Homo sapiens: one gene and its partners. The protein of the gene in region 1 purifies or fractionates together with the protein of each later gene. This does not show direct contact. Each region holds a gene or a part of one and is shown in the gene's direction. Other genes may lie near its edges. The genes, in order: ERN2, DNAJC3 and UGGT2.

Region 1 (3,356 bases):
AACAAAACAAACCTGTGCAGAAGATGCTGAAAGAGGGAGAGAAATAAAAGAGGATAATATAGCAAACATCACCTCCACCCGTTCTTTCCATATATCCATTTAATCCTCACAATAATATTGTGTGGGCTCTTTAGCTTTAGCTCCCCACTCTACAGATGAGAATACCGAGGGCACAGAAGTGAGGAATTTGCCTAAGTAGACAAAGAATCAGTGGCAGCACCAGGCATTGGATCCAGACAGTCTGGCACTTGGGCCCTTGCTCTTACCCACTGCACCAGGCTGAGCATGGGAGGGTGGAGGCCCAGAAAATGTCAAGGTGAGTCTGGACTGGGCCAGTGGCCGGCAAAGGTGGGCAGAGGCTCCCTGAGTCACCACCCTCCTCTCCCCCAGCTGAGCAACTCACCGTAGTGGGGAAGATTTCCTTCAATCCCAAGGACGTGCTGGGCCGCGGGGCAGGCGGGACTTTCGTTTTCCGGTGAGTGGCAGCCAGGAGCCAAGCTGGGGACATGGCACTCACAGCCCTCGTGGGCACTGTCCCCTGGAGAGACATTCTTTCAAAGACTCCCCGAGGTGGGTACAGGTTGATCCCTCACTCGCCAGTCCTGCTCTTTCCTTTATCTGTTTTTTTTTTTTTTTTTTTTTTTTTGAGTCTTGCTCTGTTGCCCAGGCTGGAGGGCAGTGGTGCAATCTCAGCTCACTGCAACCTCCGCTTCCCAGGTTCAAGCAATTCCGGGCCTCAGCCTTCCCAGTAGCTGGGATTACAGGTGTGTATCACCATGCCCGGCTAATTTTTATATTTTTTTTAGTAGAGATGGGGGTTTCACCATGTTGGCCAGGCTGGTCTCGAACTCCTGACCTCAAGTGACCCGCCCGCCTTGGCCTCCCAAAGTGCTAGGATTACAGGTGTGAGCCACCATGTTTGTCCCTTTATCTGCTTTCCCTGAATGCCCCCCTGCCCCCGCCATCACCCACTTTCCAGGGGACAGTTTGAGGGACGGGCAGTGGCTGTCAAGCGGCTCCTCCGCGAGTGCTTTGGCCTGGTTCGGCGGGAAGTTCAACTGCTGCAGGAGTCTGACAGGCACCCCAACGTGCTCCGCTACTTCTGCACCGAGCGGGGACCCCAGTTCCACTACATTGCCCTGGAGCTCTGCCGGGCCTCCTTGCAGGAGGTGAGTTGCATTGCGGTTCAGGGAGGGTGAGTGGGAAGGTCCGGGCTGGAGAGTGATGCTTTGGCCCTTGCTGCTGCTCAGTACGTAGAAAACCCGGACCTGGATCGCGGGGGTCTGGAGCCCGAGGTCGTGCTGCAGCAGCTGATGTCTGGCCTGGCCCACCTGCACTCTTTACACATAGGTACCCGCACTTCCCCTGCCTCCCGCTCCCTGTCCTTAGCCCCTGCCTTCCGCCCTCAGCAACCAGCTTTCTTTCTGCCCCTCTCCCACAGTGCACCGGGACCTGAAGCCAGGAAATATTCTCATCACCGGGCCTGACAGCCAGGGCCTGGGCAGAGTGGTGCTCTCAGACTTCGGCCTCTGCAAGAAGCTGCCTGCTGGCCGCTGTAGCTTCAGCCTCCACTCCGGCATCCCCGGCACGGAAGGCTGGATGGCGCCCGAGCTTCTGCAGCTCCTGCCACCAGACAGTCCTGTGAGTCTATCCACCAAGTCCTCCAGGCACACAGCTGCCCCAGGCTGCAGGAATCCGTCCCTGTCCCAGTTCCCCTCCTGAGGAGACTCCATGACACTTGCTGTGTGACTTTGAGCTGCTCCTCCAAGCTTGTTTCCCTTAAAGAAGGGATAATTTGTCCCTCCTTCTACAGCAGTATCAGGACTGTTTTGCCACCCAGGGGACATTAGGCAATGTCTGGAGACATTTTTGACTGCCATGACTTGGGAGGGAGGGGCTACTGGCATCTGCTGGAAATGCTGCTAAATGTCTTACAGGACAGGACAACACCCAACACAAAGAACTAACAAAATGCCAGTTGTGCTGAGGTTGGGAAACCCTGAGCTAGAAAATGGTTTGTAATCTTCACTGTGCTTCACAACCACTGCGCAACTTAAAAAAAGAATGCCCATTGCCGGGTGCGGTGGCTCACGCCTGTAATCCCAGCACTTTGAGAGGCCGAGGCAGGCAGATTGCTTGAGCTCAGGAGTTCGAGACCAGCCTGGGTAACCTAGGGAGACCTCGTCTCTACCAAAAGCACACACAATTTAGCCGGTGTGGGTGTGTGCATCTGTGGTCCCAGCTACTTGGGAGGCTGAGGTGGGAGGATCGCTTGAGCCTGGGAGGTGGAAGTTCCAGAGTCAAGATCACACTACTGCACTCTAGCCTGGACAACAGAGTGAGACTCTTTCTCTCAAAAAACAAAAAACAAACAAACAAACAAAACCCCAGGCCCCACACCCCGTGATTTTTACCTAATTGCCTGGGTCATTTTTATGTGGAGCCAAGTTCCAGAACCACTGGTATCGAAGGTTTTGGAGGGCATCAGATGAGCTAATTAGTTGATACACAGAGCAGCGTCTGACCCACACAGACACTTGCGTTTGGGACCCCTGAATTACGGATTTTGAGTCACAGTGTGTGGGCGGAAGTTGAAGCCAGAGAAATGGATGCCAATCACACAAAAGGACAGTCACCAGGGAAGGCTGCCCCCACTCCTAAAGTTGAGAGAAAGCTCAAAGTGGTGAGCAGGGCTCAAGGACTAAATGCATGATGTCATGAGACTATACAGTTTATATTTAAATTAGTGGCCTATATATATATATATTTTTTTTTTTTTGAGATGGAGTTTCGCTCTTGTTGCCCAAGCTGGAGTGCAGTGACATGATCTCAGCTCACTGCAACCTCCACCTCCTGGGTTCAAGTGATTCTCCTGCCTCAGCCTCCCTAGTAGCTGGGACTATAGGCAGGTGCCACCATGCCCAGTTAATTTTTGTATTTTTAGTAGAGATGGGGTTTATGCCATGTTGGCCAGGCTGGTCTCGAACTCCCAGCCCTCAGGTGATTCACCTACCTCGGCCTCCCAAAGTGCTGAGATTATAGGCATGAGCCACTGTGCTTGGCCCTATATATATATATTTTTGAGACAGGGTCTTGCTCTGTCATGGAGTGCAGTCATACCATCACAGCTTACTGCAGCCTTAAACTCCTGGGCTCAAGGGATCCTCTCACCTCAGCCTCCCAAGTAGCTGGGACTACAGGCACACAACATGGCACCCAGCTAATTTTTGTATTTTTTTGTAGAGGCAGGGTCTCACCATGTTGCCCACGCTGGTCTTGAACTCCTGGCCTCCCAAAGTGCTGGGATTACAAGGTGTCAGCCACATGCCTGGCCCAATATTTTAACATTTGAGAAA
Region 2 (3,650 bases), on another chromosome or scaffold:
CTCTTTTCTTTATAAATTACCCAGTTCCGGCTGGGCACTGTGGCTCACGCCTGTAATCCCAGCACTTTGGGAGGCCGAGGTGGATGGATCACGAGGTCAGGAGTTCAAGATCAGCCTGGGCAAGATGGTGAAACCCCGTCTCTACTAAAAATACAAAAAAAAAAAAACTTAGCCTGTTGTGGAGGTGGGCGCCTGAAATCCCAGCTACTTGGGAGGCTGAGGCAGAGAATTGCTTAAACCTGGGAGGCAGAGGATGAAGTGAGCCGAGATTGCACCACTGCACTCCAGCCTGGGTGACAGAGCAAAACTCCATCTCAAAAAAAAAAAAAAAAAAATTACCCAGTTCCGGGTATTTCTTTATAGCAATGTGAGAATGGACTAATACAGAAAATTGGTACTGGGAGTGGGGCATTGCTATAAAGATACCTGAAATTGTAGAAGGAAGCAACTTTGGAATGGGGTAATGGGCAGAGGTTGGGACAGTTTGGAGGACTCAGAGGAAGACAGGAAGAGGAACGAAAGTTTGAAACCTCCTAGAGACTTGTTGAATGGTTGTGACCAAAATGCTGATAGTGGTATAGACAGTGAAGTTCAGGCTGAGGAGGGCTCAGAATGACCGCAGATGAGGAACTTATTGGGAACTGGAGTAAAGGCCACTCTTGCTATGCTTTAGTAAAGAGACTGGTGGCATTGTACCCCTGGTCTATGGATCTGTGGAACTTTGAACTTGAGAGAGGTGATTTAGGGTATCTGGTGGAAGAAACTTCTAAGCAGCAAAGTGTTCAAGATGTGACCTGGCCTCTAGCAGCCAGTGCTCATATTCATGAACAAAGAAATGATGTAAAATTGGAACTTACATTTAAAAGGGAAACAGAGCAGAAGAGTTGGAAAATTTTCAGTCTGACCATGTGGTAGAAAAGAAAAACCCATTTATAGGGGAGTAATTCAAGCAGACTGCATGAATTTGCATAAGTAAAGAGGAGCCAAGTGCTGATAGCCAAGACAATGGGAAAAAGGGCTCCAAGGCATCTCAGCGACCTTTAAGGCAGCTCCTTCTATCATAGGCCCAGAGACCTAGGAGGGAAGAACAGTTTCCTGGGCCAGGGCCCTGCCAGCCTCAGGACACTGCTGCCTGCATCCTAGTTACTCCAGCTCCAGCCATGGCTGAAAGGGGCCCAGATATAGCTCAGGCCTTCAGACGGTGCCAGCCCAAACCCTTGGAAGATTCCACATGCTGTTAAGCCTGCAGGTGCTGAAAGCCAAGAATTGAGGCTTGGGAGCCTCAGCCTAGATTTCAGATATATGGAAAAGCCTGGATGTTCAGGCAGAAGGTTGCTGCAGGGGCAGAGCCCTCATGGAAAAATCTCTACTAGGGCAGTGCAGAGGGGAAATGTGGGGTTGGAGCCCCCAACAGAGTCCCCACTGGGGCACTGCCTAGTGGAGCTGTGAGAAAGACCACCATCTTTCAGACCCCAGAATGGTAGATCCGCTGACAGCTTGCACCATGCACCTGGAAAAGCTGCAGCCACTCATTGCCAGCCCTTGACAGCAGCCGCGTGGGCTGAGCCCTGCAAAGTCACAGGAGTGGCACTGCCCAAGGCCTTGGGAGCTCACCCCTTGCTGCAATATGCCCTGGATGTGAGACATGGAGTCAAAGGAGATTATTTTGGAGCTTTAAGATTTAATAACTGCCCTGCTGGGTTTTAGCACGTGCATGGGGCCCGTAGCCTTTTTCTTTTGGCCGGTTTTACCCTTTTGGAATGGGACTATTTACCCAATGCCTATAATCCCATTGTATCTTGGAAGTAATTAACTTGTTTTTGATTTTATAGGCTTATAGGTGGAAGGGACTTGGCTTGTCCCAGATGAGACTTTGGACTTTTGAGTTAATGCTGGAATGAGTTAAGACTTTGGGGGCTGTTGAGAAGGGATGATTGTATTTTGTAATGTGAGAACATGATATTTTGGAGGAGCTGGGGCGGAATGATATGGTTTGGATCTGTGCCCCACCCAAATCTTATGTTGAATTGTAATCCCTAATGTTGGAGTTGGGGCTTGGTGGTAGGTTTTTTGTTTTTTTTTAGAAATCTCCATATTGTTTTCCATAGTGGTTGAACTAATTTACATTGCTGCCACCCATATATGTGTTACAATTTCTTCACCTCCATGCTAACATCTATTTTTTTTTAAGCTTTTTAGTAATAGCCACTCAGACTTGTGTAAGATGATTGATATTTCATTGTGGTTTTAATTTGCATTTCTCTGATGATTAGTGATGAACATTTTTTCATGTTTGTTGGCTGCTTGTATGTCTTCTTTTGAGAAATGTCTCTTAATGTCCTTTGCCCACTTTTTTTTTTTTTGAGACAGAGTCTTGCTCTGTCGCCCAGGCTGGAATGCAGTGGCACGATCTTGGCTCACTGCAAGCTCCGCCTCCCAGGTTCACGCCATTCTCCTGCCTCAGCCTCCTAAGCAGCTGGGACTACAGGTGCCTGCCACCATGCCCGGCTAATTTTTTGTATTTTTAGTAGAGACAGGGTTTCACTGTGCTAGCCAGAATGGTCTTGATCTCCCGACCTTGTGAGCCACCCGCCTTGGCCTCCCAAAGTGCTGGGATTACAGGCGTGAGCCAGTGCGCCTGGCCCTTTGCCCACTTTTTAATGGGGTTCTTTGTTTTCTTCTTGTTGAGTTGTTTGAGTGTCTTGTAGATTCTGGATATTAGTCCTTTGTCGGAGGCATAATTTGCAAATGTTTTCTCTCATTCTGTAGTTTGTCTCTTTGCCCTGTTGATTATCTTTTGATGTGCAGAAGCTTTTTAGTTAAGTCCCATTTGTTTATTTTTGGTTTTGTTGCATTTGTGTTTGGGGTCTTCGTCATAAGTTGTTTGCCTAGGCCAATGTCCAAAATGTTTAATCTATCTTGAGGTAGTTTTTGTATATGCTGGGAGACAGAGATCCAGTTTCTTCTGCATATGGCTAGCCAATTTTCCCAGCACCATTTATTGAATTAGGGTGTCCTTTCCCTGTTGTTTATATTTGTCAGCTTTGTCAAAGATCAATCTGTTGGATGTAAGTATGTGGTTTTATTTCTGGGGTTCTCTATTGTAGTCCATTGATCTGTGTGCGTATTTTTGTACCAGTACCATGCCATTTTAGTTACTATAGCCTTGTAGTATAATTTGAAGTCAAGTAATGTGATGCCTCTGGATTTGTTCTTTTTGGTTAGGATTACTTTGGCTATTCATGCCCTTTTTTGGTGCTGTATGGACTTTAGAATTGTTTTTCCTAGTTCTCTGAAAAATGACATTGGTGATTTGATAGGAATTGTGTTGAATCTACAGATTACTATGGGCAGTATGGTTATTTTAATGATAGTCTCCAAATCCATGAGCCTGGGATGTTTTTGTGTTTATTTATGACATATATGATTTGTTTCATAAGTGTTTTGTAGTTCTCATGGAGATCTTTCACCTCCTTGGTCAGTGTTTTCCTAGGTATTTTATTTTTTTGCATATGGCTTTTGTAAATGGGATTGAATTCTTGATTTGGTTTTTGGCTTGAATATTGTTGGTGTATAGAAATGCTACAGATTTTTATACCATGGTTTTGTATACTGAGACTTTACTCAAGTTGTTTATCGGTCTTGGAGTC
Region 3 (3,650 bases), on another chromosome or scaffold:
TGTTCACTCTGATGGTAGTTTCTTTTGCTGTGCAGATGCTCTTTACTTTAATTAGATCCCATTTGTCAGTTTTGGCTTTTGTTGCCATTGCTTTTGGTGTTTTAGACATGAAGTCCTTGCCCATGCCTATGTCCTGAATGGTATTGCCTAGGTTTTCTTCTAGAGTTTTTATGGTTTTAGATCTAACATTTAAGTCTTTAGTCCATCTTGAATTAATTTTTGTATAAGGTGTAAGGAAGGGATCCAGTTTCAGCTTTCTACATATGGCTAGCCAGTTTTTCCAGCACCATTTATTAAATAGGGAATCCTTTCCCCATTTCTTGTTTTTGTCAGATTTGTCAAAGATCAGATGGTTGTAGATGTGTGGTATTATTTCTGAGGGCTCTGCTCTGTTCCATTGGTCTATATCTCTATTTTGGCACCAGTACCATGGTGTTTTGGTTACTGTAGCCTTATAGTATAGTTTGAAGTCAGGTAGCGTGATGCCTCCAGCTTTGTTCTTTTTGCTTAGGATTGTCTTGGCAATGCGAGCTCTCTTTTGTATCCATATGAACTTTAAAGTAGTTTTTTCCAATTTTGTGAAGAAAGTCATTGGTAGCTTGATGGGGATGGCATTGAATCTATAAATTACCTTGGGCAGTATGGCCGTTTTCACGATACTGATTCTTCCTATCCATGAGCATGGAATATTCTTCCATTTGTTTGTGTCCTCTTTTATTTTTTTGAGCAGTGGTTTGTAGTTCTCTTTGAAGAGGTCCTTCACATCCCTTGTAAGTTGGATTCCTAGGTATTTTATTCTCTTTGAAGCAATTGTGAATGGGAGTTCACTCATGATTTGGCCCTCTGTTTGTCTGTTATTGGCATAGAGCAATGCTTGTGATTTTTGTACATTGATTTTGTATCCTGAGACTTTGCTGAAGTTGCTTATCAGCTTAAGGAGATTTTGGGCTGAGATGATGGGGTTTTCTAAATATACAATCATATCATCTGCCAACAGGGACAATTTGACTTCCTCTTTTCCTAATTGAATACCCTTTATTTCTTTCTCCTGCCTGATTGCCCTGGCCAGAACTTCCAACACTGTGTTGAATAGGAGTGGTGAGAGAGGGCATCCTTGTCTTGTGCCAGTTTTCAAAGGGAATGCTTCCAGATTTTGCCCATTCAGTATGATATTGGCTGCAGATTTGTCATAAATAGCTCTTATTATTTTGAGATATGTCCCATCAATACCTAATTTGAGAGTTTTTAGCATGAAGGGCTGTTGAATTTTGTCAAAGGCCTTTTCTGCATCTATTAAGATAATCATGTGGTTTTTGTCTTTGGTTCTGTTTATATGATGAATTATGTTTATTGATTTGCATATGTTGAAACAGCCTTGCATCCCAGGGATGAAGCCCACTTGATCATGGTGGATAAGCTTTTTGAGATGCTGCTGGATTTGGTTTGCCAGTATTTTATTGAGGTTTTTGCATTGATGTTCATCAGGGATATTGGTCTAAAATTCTCTTTTTTTGTTGTGTCTCTGCCAGGCTTTGGTATCAGGATGATGCTGGCCTTATAAAATGAGTTAGGGAGGATTCCCTTTTTTTGTATCAATTGGAATAGTTTAAGAAAGAATGGTACCAGCTCCTCTTTGTACCTTTGGTACAATTTGGCTGTGAATCTGTCTGGTCCTGGACTTTTTTTGTTTGGTAGGCTATTATTGCCTCAATTTCAGAGCCTGTTATTGGTGTATTCAGGGATTCAACTTCTTCCTGGTTTAGTCTTGGGAGGGTGTATGTGTACAGGAATTTATCCATTTCTTCTAGATTTTCTAGTTTATTTGCGTAGAGGTGTTTATAGTATTCTCTGATGGTAGTTTGGATTTCTGTGGGATTGGTAGTGATATCCCCTTTATCATTTTTTATTGCATCTATTTGATTCTTCTCTTTTCTTCTTTATTAGTCTTGCTAGCGGTCTATCAATTTTGTTGATCTTTTCAAAAAACCAGCTCCTGAATTCATTGATATTTTTTTGAATGGTTTTCTTGTGTCTCTATCTCCTTCAGTTTTGCTCTGATCTTAGTTATTTCTTGCCTTCTGCTAGCTTTTGAATGTGGTTGCTCCTGCTTCTCTAGTTCTTTTAATTTGATGTTAGGGTGTCAATTTTAGATCTTTCCTGCTTTCTCTTGTGGACATTTAGTGCTATAAATTTCCCTCTACACACTGCTTTAAATGTGTCCCAGAGATTCTGGTATGTTGTGTCTTTGTTCTTATTGGTTTCAAAGAACAGCTTTATTTCTGCCTTCATTTTGTTATGTACCCAGTAGTCATTCAGGAGCAGGTTGTTCAGTTTTCATGTAGTTGAGTGGTTATGAGTGAATTTCTTAATCTTGAGTTCTAGTTTGATTGCTGTTGTCTGAGAGACAGTATGTTATAATTTCTCTTCTTTTACATTTGCTGAGGAGTCCTTTACTTGCAACTATGTGGTCAATTTTGGAATAAGTGCGGTGTGGTGCTGAGAAGAACGTATATTCTGTTGATTTGGGGTGGAGAGTTCTGTAGATGTCTATTAGGTCTGCTTGGTGCAGAGCTGAGTTCAATTCCTGGATATCCTTGTTAACTTTCTGTCTCGTTGATCTGTCTAATGTTGACAGTGGGGTGTTAAAGTCTCCCATTATTATTGTGTGGGAGTCTAAATCTCTTTCTAGGTCTCTAAGGACTTGCTTTATGAATCTAGTTGCTCCTGTATTGGGTGCATATGTATTTAGGATAGTTAGCTCTTCTTGTTGAATTAATCCCTTTACCATTATGTAATGGCCTTCTTTGTCTCTTCTGATCTTTGTTGGTTTAAAGTCTGTTTTATCAGAGACTAGGATTGCAACCCCTGCTTTTTTTTGTTTCCCATTTGCTTGGTAGATCTTCCTCCATCCCTTTATTTTGAGCCTATGTGTGTCTCTCTCACATAGCAAGGAGCTGCGTTCCTTTGGAGGAGAAGAGGCACTCTGATTTTTAGAATTTGCAGCTTTTCTGCTCTGGTTTCTCCCCATCTTTGTGGTTTTATCTACCTTTGGTCTTTGATGATGGTGACGTACAGATGGGATTTTGGTGTGGATGTCCTTTCTGTTTGTTAGTTTTACTTCTAACAGTCAGGACCCTCAGCTGCAGGTCTGTTGGAGTTTGCTGGAGGTCCACTCCAGACCCTGTTTGCCTGGGTATCTACAGCAGAGGCTGCAGAACAGCAAATATTGCAGAACGGCAAATGTTGCTGTCTTATTGTTCCTCTGGAAGCTTCGTCTCAGAGGGGCACCCGGCTGTATGAGGTGTCAGTCGGCCCCTACTGGGAAGTGCCTCCCCATTAGGCTACTTGGGGTTCAGGGATCCACTTGAGGAGGCAGTCTGTCTGTTCTCAGATCTCAAACTCCGTGCTGGGAGAAGCACCACTCTCTTCAAAGCTGTCAGACAGGGACATATAAGTGTGCAGAAGTTTCTGCTGCCTTTTGTTCAGTTATGCCCTGACCCCCAGAGGTGGAGTCTACAGAGGCAGGCAGGCCTCCTGGAGCTGTGGTGGGCTCCACCCAGTTCAAGCTTCCAGACTGCTTTGTTTACCTACTCAAACCTCAGCAATGGCGGGTGCCCCTCCCCCAGCCTCACTGCTGCCTTGCGGTTGGA

The links.
Region 2: the proteins of ERN2 (region 1) and DNAJC3 purify together in Homo sapiens (affinity purification with mass spectrometry; one large-scale study listed by BioGRID and IntAct). This does not show direct contact.
Region 3: the proteins of ERN2 (region 1) and UGGT2 purify together in Homo sapiens (affinity purification with mass spectrometry; one large-scale study listed by BioGRID and IntAct). This does not show direct contact.

What each region holds. Positions count from the first base shown.
Region 1 is NC_000016.10:23,693,013-23,696,368, reverse strand, and holds part of ERN2 (serine/threonine-protein kinase/endoribonuclease IRE2 isoform a precursor), read left to right. Parts: intron 1-390; coding exon 391-475; exon of another isoform or gene 476-638; intron 639-979; coding exon 980-1,169; intron 1,170-1,250; coding exon 1,251-1,350; intron 1,351-1,441; coding exon 1,442-1,641; intron 1,642-3,356. UniProt on the Homo sapiens protein: Induces translational repression through 28S ribosomal RNA cleavage in response to ER stress. Pro-apoptotic. Appears to play no role in the unfolded-protein response, unlike closely related proteins.
Region 2 is NC_000013.11:95,683,617-95,687,266, forward strand, and holds part of DNAJC3 (dnaJ homolog subfamily C member 3 precursor), read left to right. Parts: intron 1-3,650. UniProt on the Homo sapiens protein: Involved in the unfolded protein response (UPR) during endoplasmic reticulum (ER) stress.
Region 3 is NC_000013.11:96,046,890-96,050,539, reverse strand, and holds part of UGGT2 (UDP-glucose:glycoprotein glucosyltransferase 2 precursor), read left to right. Parts: intron 1-3,650. UniProt on the Homo sapiens protein: Recognizes glycoproteins with minor folding defects. Reglucosylates single N-glycans near the misfolded part of the protein, thus providing quality control for protein folding in the endoplasmic reticulum.